2 separate regions of the Homo sapiens genome follow, and region 2 is linked to region 1. The links come from fine-mapping of genetic effects on gene expression. Tissue or cell type: whole blood. Region 1 holds a variant in brackets; the other region holds the start of a gene. All regions are shown on one strand. Distances are from middle to middle.

Region 1 (5,204 bases):
GGAGTTTGATAATTTTGCATTTTACATTTAGGTCTGTGGATACATTTTGAGTTAATTTTTGTTAAGGTGTAAAGTCTGCCTCCAACTTCATTTTTTTGGCATGGATGTCCAGTTGTTTCAGCACCATTTGTTGAAAAGACTCTCTTTGCTCTGTTGTATTGCACTTGCTCCTTTGTGAAAGATCAGTTGACTGTATTTATGTCAGCCTATTTCTGGACTGTCTGTTCCATTGATCTGCTTGTCTATTTTCCTAATACTACATTATCTTGATTGATGTTATGGTAAGTCTTATAGTTGTTCCACATTTCTGGAATATTCTGTGCCAGGTTTTTTTTCAGTCTTTTTTTCTTTTTTCAGGTTTCTGTTGACAAATTGTGAAGCTCAGAGATCCTTTCCTTAGCTGTGTTTAGCCTACTAATGAGCCCATTAGGGGCATTCTTCATTTGTGTAGTCTTTTTGATCTCTATTTTTTTCATTCTAGAATTTCCATGTCTCTGCCTACATTATCCATGTGTTCTTGCATGTTGTTTACTTTTTCCATTAAAGCCTGTAGCATATTAATCATAGTTTTAAAAATTCCTCTTCTGATAATTCCAACATTCCTGCTGTATCTGACTCTGGTTCTGATGCATATGCAGTTTCTTCCTACTGTTGCTTTTTCCTTTAGTGTGCCTTTTACCTTTTTGTTGAAAAGTGGACATGATATACTGGGTAAAAGGAACTGTGGTAAATAGACCTTTACCATAGATGGGGTGGTGAGGCCGGGGGGTGGCATTTTCTAGTCCTGTGATTAGGTCTTAGCCTCTGGTGAGCCTGTGCCCCTGGCCCGTGAACTTCACTAGTGCTTCCCAGTTTTTCTACTGTTAGGTGGAACTGGATGGCTAGAGAAGACTGGAGTTGGGTATTTTCCTTCCCCCAGGTTAGTCAGACTCTGGTTAGTTTCTTTTGAGGGCAGACTTTGTTTAGAACAGAGTGCTCTGGAGTATTTCGTAGTGATTCTTTTTCCCCTCCGCCTGCTGGAAGCATGAGGGGATTTTTCCCAATATTCGCTGAGAACCTGGTCAAGCTCCTGGAGGTAAAACCCACAGAAGTGTGGGGGTCCCCTTCGCCTGGGTCCACCTGGAGTGTTTTTGTTTGTTTGTTTTTCATCTCAGACTTGTCCACACTGAGCCTTCAGCGACTCATCAATTAAAGCTAAGGTTTTCCTACCAGAACACTGGTTCCTATGGAGTTTGTTGCTTCGTGGGTTTCTGCTCTGATAAGCTGTGATTCTCTGTATGCATCTGTAGGTTTCTGCAGTTTTAGGGGCAGCAGTTTACCATGTGACCTCACTTCTCTGATGGATCTAAGAAGAGTTTTGCTTTTTCAGTTTGTTCAGCTTTTTACTTGTTACGACAGAGTGATGACTTCTAAGCTTCTTACATACTTGGCTGGAAATTAAAAATTTAACATTTTTAATCAGATGAGAGAATGCCAGTTATAAAAGTTTTCTTGACCATTGAAGTAATAGTTAAACAGGTCAAAGTGTGACCTGCAGTAGGCCATCTCTGCCTTCCCTAGACCTTTGGAACAGTCCTACCTGAGAACAACGAGTGATGGACCTGGGGTCTTTGTCCTGCTCAGAGTTAACTAAATGAGTTTCTAGTATGTCTGAGGTAGACCAAGGTGATCACCACTTAGAAGGTACTTGCTTTACTTATAATTTGGTGGCAGTTCTCTTGTCCAGTTCTAAGACTTTGATATCCATAATATTTAAAATAATTTTAAGTACATGTTTTGCCTTGTGGAGAGTTTAGCAGTTTATTTTCATAGATTGAGATCTTTTTGCAACGTGATTCTCAATAACTATAGTGTGCTAAAATCAGTGGGCTTTCAAAGAAACTTTAGTGAATCAATATGTCTTTATATTTCTATTTAAATGGAACTCTTATTCCTAGTGGTTGTACTGCATTTTCATACGCTAGTGAATTCTGTTATCAGTCGGGCCCTTTGTGGAAGATGCCAAAACTCATCAGTGGAAGGACTGCTCATTTTTTCTACATGTCTCCAAATTAAGGAAGCATCCTGATGTTGACAGCATCCTCTGTGCCCTAGGTTTGGGTATTGCACAGTGTGTGTATGACAGGGTTGTGTTGTTTAATTCTCACAACAGCCCTGCGGGGCAGCTGTTGTAGAGTTGGGACCACAGGATTGTGAGCTGCAGCAGGGCTCCCCCAGGGCCTGTCTGGGCCCTTCTGTCTCACAGGGCCTCCCTGCTCTCAGCCATTTGGATGGACTCTAGTCAAGTTGTTTCCTGTGCCTGCTGTTCCAAATTGTTGGTAGGGCAGAAAGTTTCAGAAAAAAAATTCCACTTTCATTTACAGAGGAGCTGTACAAGGTACTTTAACACAGTTACTAGTTAAGTAATCTTACTTGACTAGGTGTGGTGTGAAATTAATCATGCTGTCTCACTGGAGCTTGCTTTTTCAGCTGTATATTTCCTGAAGTGACCAGCAGTAGCTTTCATCTCCTTTCCCTCCTCCCGTTGTGCTCATTGAGAAAAGAATGTGATTATTGTTTAATTAAATGACTTGACTTTTATGGGAGATTAAAGCAGGCAGGCTTTGATCTGTAACACCATTGCCAACACCTTTTTTGAGGATATGCTAACTACCAGCAGAAAGCTAAGATCCGCAGATTTTAATTAAAGACTTGAGACACAAAGCATGTAATTATTACGAGACATTTTCAGGGGACTGGCAAAGTTGTGACTGCATGCGAAGTGCAGGCCAAGAACAGAGCAGCATTAGAGCATCAGGCACCTAGGCAGGTGTAAGATCATGGCCCCGTCATTTGCACGTTCTGCCCCTTTTCTGCTTCAAAGGGTGCCATAAATTCCATATAACTGTATCTTGGGGAATGTGGAGTCCCTGTGAGAGCTAATCCCCATGTCCTGCCTTCCAGATCGGCGCCAATGGTGTGCCATAGCCATCCTCTTTGCAGTCCTGTTGGTTGTGCTCATCCTCTTCTTAGTGCTGTGACGGC[G/A]GGGCCTCTGGGTGCGAGTTCCTCCTGCATATGAACCGAGGGGAGGAGGAGAAGCTGAGCACGTGTGACATTGCCGTCTACTCACATTCCTATCCTGGAAACATACTGCTGCACTGACTTTTCTCCGTGTGACCCCACAATTGACATGGCTCCTCCATCCCAGCGCTGGAAGGGCCAGTGGGAAGAGGAAATAGATGTCTGCACTCCTGGCTGCAGCTGGACAACAGAAGCCCCATGCCGCCTGTCCAGTTCGGAGGAGAACTAGCTGCTGCCTTGCCTTCCGGGACCTCGTTTGCTGAGGAGGGACTTACAGACTCCACTGGTGTTTTGCTGTTGCTCATTCCATGCATCTTTGGCAGCTCTTTTCTTCTGCTCAGACCCTTCCCCGTGCTCAGACAGTGCACCGCTGTCCCATCTAAAGAAACCTGTCAGGAATACGAGCTTCTGGGTATGTTTCGTTTCCCATTGCTGTAGCATTTCTTATCCCCTGAGAGCTGATGATTATTGAGGACAGAAGGCTCAGAAACAGTTTGTGACAGAAAATGCAGTGTTTCATTTTTCAGGGATAAATGCTAAGATAAAATTGCTTTTCCAGGTCATTTTTTTTTGTGGTAAGAATAACTAATGGAAAATAATGAAACACCCTGGGGTTTGGGGGTGCTAACAACTTGTGGCTTTAACTGACAGGAGCAATTAAAAAGAGCAAGAGGGTTCTGCATTGGCATAGCTTAGGGAAGGGTTAATGATGTCGCCACAGGTCAGCTCCTGATCCTTGCCGACTTGATGTTGCTGTACCAGGGCTTCCTCCCCAGAGGTGCAGCTTGCGTTTTGAGGGTGATTGCTACATATGTTGTTGCTAAACAGCTCAGTAACACACTTGAATGAATTTGGATACCAGATTGTCCTCATTACAGTTCTTTTACTCTTAGGGCACTCTACACTGGGGGTTGGGGTTGGGAGTGGTTAGTACATTTATTACATTTATTAAGAAACGTAATGACATAAAAGGTTAGCTCTGGGCCAGACTTCTCTTACTCTGTGGGTAATGGCAAGGATGTGTAGGTAAACTTGGTTCTTTTTTTTCCCTAAGATGACAGCTTGATTTTATCATCTGCAGTCAAATAACTGAGCCAATCCAAATTTAAATGATAGATGCTTTAATTGAGTTTAAGTAGCTGAAACTGCTGAGACACTAAACTTTAACCTTCTGATGACTTTTTAAAATGCCTCAAATGTGCACATGTATATAGGATATTTTTATAACTTCCCTGATGAATAATCTGATATTAAAGTAGTATTTGGACCCAGAGCCAGAACTCGGTGGTGGAGGCTGCTGGTCTCTCCTCACCACCTTCTTTTGCACTTGGAAAGAACAGCAACATCTGGATAGAGTTCTAGCTTTGACTTCTCATTTCCTTGTCTTTTTGGGTGCATTCCTCAGCACACTTTTTTTTTAAACCTTTTTGTTTTGTTTTGTTTGTATTTCATGTGGTTTTATTTGGGGGTTTTGGTTTTTTCACCCTTTTTTGTGATTTGCAATGATGTGCTTGCCCAGCTAACTTTTGAATTGCACTTTTTAATAAATATTCTTAACAATTTTTGAAGAAGGATATTTTATCTCATTTGAGATCATGGTAGGTTAAGAAAATATGCCTGTTGATGAAAGCTAAAAGCAAATTTATGAAACTAAAAGGGTGATTGACATCCATGTTTACACTCCGCTCTAATGTTTGATATATAAATAAGTTATTTTCAAATTAGGAAAAAACAGTGAGTATTACAAAGGGCTTCAGATGTTTAGAGTACTAGGTTATTTATGTTTTACAAAGTTTGAATCTTCTATAAACTAAGAAAGGGGATGATCCTTAGATTTGCATTAAAATATAGAAGTCTTTTAAAGTAAATGTGAACCTTGTCTAAGTACTGTAATCCACACAACACATTATAAGAAGCAAACCAGCATCTTAAGGAATTATAAAATTACCCTATTTAAAAGCCATGCTATTGTTCTGCTATTACCAGATTTATTGTGCCACACAAAAGGATCATGTGTGTCAGCAGGGGCCGTTTGGAACAAACCTAGTCATTAATGAGTAAGATACTCCTGTTAGTTCAGGGACCAAGTTTTATGACCCAGAGGCTTAATGATGTTTGGATATATTTCAAATCGGCGTGCTTAC
Region 2 (5,119 bases), 23 kb after region 1:
GTGGTGGCAAGCAGATGTCTCACTAAGCCATCCCTCTAACATGAGAAGTGGTAACATAAGGCTGAGGAGTGGGGAGAGGGGTCACAAAAGCGGTGCCAGTTAGTGGCAGATTAAAGCACTGAACTAGAAGTACCTGGGATAAAGCATGGATATCAGTTGCCTTGGACTTGACCGCATTTCAAGTCCACTGTAGGGTTCAAGAGATCTACTGGCTCAGGGTTTCACACAGGTCCGCCTTGCTGATAAATGTTTTGGAGCTTTTGTGTATTTGGCTGGAAATAAGCAAAAAGTAAATGAGCCAAACCCCTTACTGTATAAACCCAGAAAAGCCTGGAGACTTAGTCTGGGGAGCTCAGGATGAGAATGAAAATTGTGGCCTCTGAATGCCACTCCCATGGCTGCCAGCACCCCTTGTTCCTGAGTTAACACCAGAGCTGGATGGAGGCTGGTGAGCTTGGGGTCTTGGGGGGCATGGGGTCCTAGAGCTGGCTCTCCTGGGAGCCTTTCTGCTCCTTAGGTAGAGTGGGGCCTCCTGCCTTGGGGCTTCCATTGTAGCCCTGCACGCTGGCCTTTTTTCACAACCAAAGCTGTATCCATCCTGGGGATGAGGGTATCCTAAGGGCAGGACAGGCCCCTCCCCAGTGCCTGGCACTGGGCCAGAACCCTAAGGGCAGCTCCACACTGTGAGTAGGGGCCTGAGCCCAGACTGCAGAAGGACAAGACAAAGGCAGGCCCGGCAGGCAGCCTGGCAGCCACAGGAGAGCTCCGGATACCCTCCAGGACTGGCAGGGCAGCTGTTAAGCCCTGGCTCCATGGGCACATATCAGCGCCAGTCCCCGCAGCCCCTTTCCTCAGGGTCCAGCACTCCGACCTGGCCAACCCACAGCCAGAGAGCGCTGGGCAGAGCTTCTTGCCAAGGAAGGCTCTTGCCATTTCTAAGCAGGTGCTCTGGCTTTGTAGGAAAGAGGGAAACTTCTCTGCGGATATGTGGGGGAGGGAGGGAGAAAGGGGAAGGCCTGTTCATGCAGGTGCAGCAGGGCCTTTTGAGTCGCTCCAGAACTAGTCTGGGGACTTGGGGTGGGAAATGGGTTGGGTAGATGAACTAGGGAAGTCCACTTGTTGCCAGGTAAGTTTAGTGGAGGATAAACAAGCAATTCTACCTAAAGAGTCACAATAAAGAGCCCTTGGTACAAGATCCTATGGGATTTAAGGGGAGGAGCCGAAGTCAGCATGCAGTATCGGGAATGCTTCCAGAGACAGACACCTCTAATATTTTTGAAGGCTGCCACGGGGTTTGTGGGGGGACAGGGAAAAGGCATTCCAGCCAAGGCACATGCATAAAGCATGAGAGAGTAGGTGGGTGCATGGATGGGTGAAGTTGGGGCTAGTGGGATCCAGGAGCCAACAAACAAAGCTCCTGCCAATAATACCCACACAAGAATCCTGTGCCCAGAGGCAGTTTGGAAGACTAAGAAGTCCACAGTCGCATCATTGCCCTCCTCTCCTGGGTCATAGGCCTCTTCTTGGCACACCCGGAAAAGAGGTGGAAACAAACAGCTGCCCAGGACACCTGGGCATCTAGGATGGAGGCCTCTTCCCCACTACCCCAGGGGCCAGGCCATAGCCCTGAGGGTTTCTTCTGCCTCCCCGCAGAACAGAGCCATAACCCACTTTAAATTACAACTCGGTACACACTTGCAGAAGCATTTCTCAAAACCTAACCTACCCTTGGCTTGTATAAAGCACTCTAATTTTTATTTTAATTTAATGTTGGTCTCAACCCACAAAATTGCTTTTATAACCCATGAGTGAATTGTGCCTGCAGTTTGGAAACACTGCCCTGGAAAGGGATCTGCCTGCTCTTCTCCAGCCCCACTTCCCAGAAGAAAAACCAAAATGAGAGCCCCTGCGTCCTGGTGAAGGTCAGTGGCGGGCAGGCCAAGCAGGGCCTCCAGAGCTGCTCGAGGGCCTCCAAGGGAGGTGAGCTGCAGAGGGACCCAGGAGGGTGGAAGGATGCTGGCTGGAAGTCACAGAGGGCCAGGTTCAAATCCTGCCTCCGCTTTTGATTGGCTCCCAGACCTTGGATCTATCTGTGAATTAACCTTTGAGCCTCGGACTCCTCGTGCGTTAGCCTGGTATAATAGTCTCTCTCTCGCAGTGTTGCCGTATGGATTCAGGGTGATTTAATGACCTCAACAGAGCTCTGGAACATTTGCGTAGCTGGCAGGGCAAGGCGAGGGACAGCCCAACGAAGGCAGGTCCTTGAAGTCCTGGTTAACACTGGTTTCCAAAATTCGAGCCGGCCTGCGGTTTTTCCAGCACGCCTGAAAGCTGGGGACACTCATGCACCAGGTACTCATTCCTGCACACCCCGCCCCCGCCCCACGGACATGAGGGTCCATAGGTCGCCCCACTTCCTCCCCATCCCTCCGGCCAGCTCCAGCTCATCCTCCCAGTCTGGCTCGGCGCGCCGCCTCCACATCACCTTTCAGCAAGGCCCGGGACCGTGCGGTGCACCAGTAGGCCCCGTCCGCCTCCCCAGCCGTGCGTTTCTCAAAGGCAGGGTGAGCCCAGCAGTGTGTGTGCGTGTACGCGTGCGCGCGTGTGCTGGGGGCGGGGTTTGCAAAACTCCCGCGAGCCCGCCCTCCCTCCACCCTCAGGCTGCAGGCCCCCGCGGCTCTAACAGCCGGTGCCCTGCTGGACACACCCCGCCTCGCGGAAGCGGCCTTGGCACGAAGGCCCTGGCGACCCCCAGGCAGCGCAACGGGCCGCTCCCCTCTCACCCCCGCCCGCGCGAGGCCCCGCGGGAGGACGCGGACAGAGGCTGTTGGCTGTGCTGCCTGGCCCCACGCCTCCTGTCTGCGCGGCGGGAACACTCCGCGGGCGGCCGCGTGGCCGGGAAGGCGCGGCTGGCGCGGAGTCTGCGGGTGCAGAGCAAGCGGCCGCCCGCTGCCTGCCCTGGCCGGTGGGGACAGCCCGCCCTGCCAGGGAGACTTGGGGGGGCACCGGAGTCGCTGCGAGGTTGCCTCTAGTGGCCTGAGGGCGGGGCGGGCGCGGGGCAGCTGCTGAGGGCACAGTCGCCTCCTGGTCGCAGGGCCCGCGACAGACCCCGATTCTCCCTCCCGGGACACCGGGTGCCAGCTGCGGATATCTCTCGCCGCCGCTGCACCCCGCAGCGACAGAGGGGGGCCCCCGGGAAAGAGGGGAAAACCAGCCGCCGCCCGGGACGCTGGTTCTGCGGGTGGCTTCTGAAAATGCCCCCAAGCCCCGAGGAGACTGAGGTGCCTGAGGCAAAGGGGTGCCACTTTCTGCTCCGTGTAGTCCCAGTGTCAGGGGCCTTCTGTGAACCGCGGGAGGGACATAAGTTAGACACCGGGAATACCCACACCTTTGCATGTGGCTGCTTCGTTTCTGTGCCTGAGCCACTTGGCCCTTGCTGTAGCTTCCTACTCGTTTTACAAAGCCCTGCTTGTGCTCACCTGCCCGGTTGGCGCCCTTGCCAACTACCCGGCCAACCACGAATCACGGCCCCAGGCTGTCCACAGGCTACCCACAGGCTACACCGGCTGCAGCTCCTCTTGCAGCATACCCTGCATCCGGCGCTGTAATGTGTGTGTGCCTCCCCCTGGGCTGGGGCCCCTTGAGGCTGCGGGTCTTTCTTAAGTCCGGGGGCTCTTGCCTGGCCTAGGCCTGGTTCCTGGTTAATAAGCTCTCAGTAAGAAGGTTCTGATGGCCCAGGCACTATGGCTCAGGCCAGCACTTTGGGAGGCTGAGTCGGGCGGATCACATGAGGTCAGGAGTTCGAGACCAGCCTGGCCAACATAGTGAAACCCTGTCTCTACCAAAAATACAAAAATTAGCTAGACATAGTGGCAGGCGCCTGTAGTCCCAGCTACTTGGGAGGCTGGGGAAGGAGAATCACTTGAGCCCAGGAAGCGGAGGTTACAGTGAGCTGATACTGTGCCATTGCACTCCAAGCCTGGGCAACAGAGTGAGACACTGTCTCAAAAAAAAAAAAAAAAAAAAAAAAAAAAAGGTTCTGATGTTCCAGTGTGTGAGGCAGGGCTGCCCTAGGCCTTCGAGGTCAGCAGCTCCCCAGGCAGGCAGATGCAGGCAGTTGGGGAAGGTCAAACAGGAGGCTGGAGGAACCAAAGCCCCCTCCCATTTCCACACAAGGCAGGGCCTGCACATCAGGCTGCCCCAGGGAGAAGCTGGGATGCCAGCGCCTTTGCCTCCTTGGAATTAGGTCACCGTCCAGAGGCCTGGGAGCCTCCAGTGTCCCGCGTGCCTCGTGCCCCTCCCCTAGCACCAAGCCTTTTCTGGCATGGGGAGGCAGCTGCAGTGGGAAAAGTGGGCCCCAAGTCAGAGGGGCAGGATTGCATGCCCTGTCACTGCTGCTGAACTTGGTTCCCCATCTATGCAAAATGAAGACAATGAGCAGGACATACCTGGCAGGACTATTTAAGGACTAAGTATGTCACCAGCCCGGGAGGTGATACGCCTGAGGCCTTTTCCCGTCCTCCCAGCCCCAGCCACCCCCTTCCACCTCCTCCCACCTGGGAAGGCAAGTTGTCCTTTTCAGAGAAAAGTGGAGCTGTCTTTGGCCCCCAGGAGCTTTTCTCAACATGAAATTTCTCCAGTTTTGTGACCTTAGGCCAAGAATTGCAGTATAGGAGGAGCCAGGGTTTCTCCACACTTGAAGTTTCTTGCTGTGGGCTCATTTCTACACTTTGAAGAGTGCCAGTGCCCTCTTCACAGCCTGAAGCCCCAAGCACTTGTTCCTCTGGCCCCTCTGCTCACCTGCCAGATCCCCCTAATTCCTCCTCCACCCCCCTACCCCATTCTGTGAGCCATGGGGCTCAGCCCCTCCCTCTCCTCCCATGGGCATCATGAAGACAGGGTTCTACCTGGCTCCTGCTGCAAAGGCCCTGGGTGGGGGAACACACTCCCAACACTGCACAGGACTGCCTCCCCACCCCCACGACCTTGTCCCTGGGCCACAGGCCTGCTTCAGTGTTCTTGCCCAATGAAAGCTGCCCTGACACTCTTTTAAACCCGATTCTGCTGAGGGTTGGGTTTCTTGGTTCCAGGATTTTTTTTTTTTTTTAACCACAGCTGG

The links. PIP is the estimated chance that this variant, and not a neighbour inherited with it, causes the effect.
Region 2: it holds the start of KIAA1614-AS1, and the variant in region 1 is fine-mapped to the expression of KIAA1614-AS1 in whole blood (TOPMed, PIP above 0.99).

What each region holds. Positions count from the first base shown.
Region 1 is chr1:180,974,386-180,979,589 of GRCh38, reverse strand. It overlaps STX6 (syntaxin 6), which reads left to right. Exons shown (of 8, transcript NM_005819.6): 8 at 2,944-5,204. The coding sequence ends at 3,020. Among named protein-coding and RNA genes, the nearest start is that of KIAA1614-AS1, 22 kb to the right of the region's middle. The variant G/A (reference allele first, on the strand shown) is at 3,025.
Region 2 is chr1:180,951,901-180,957,019 of GRCh38, reverse strand. It overlaps KIAA1614-AS1 (KIAA1614 antisense RNA 1), which reads left to right and starts at 2,133. Exons shown (of 2, transcript NR_145481.1): 1 at 2,133-2,352. RefSeq lists an enhancer at 1,898-2,503 and a silencer at 2,539-3,078.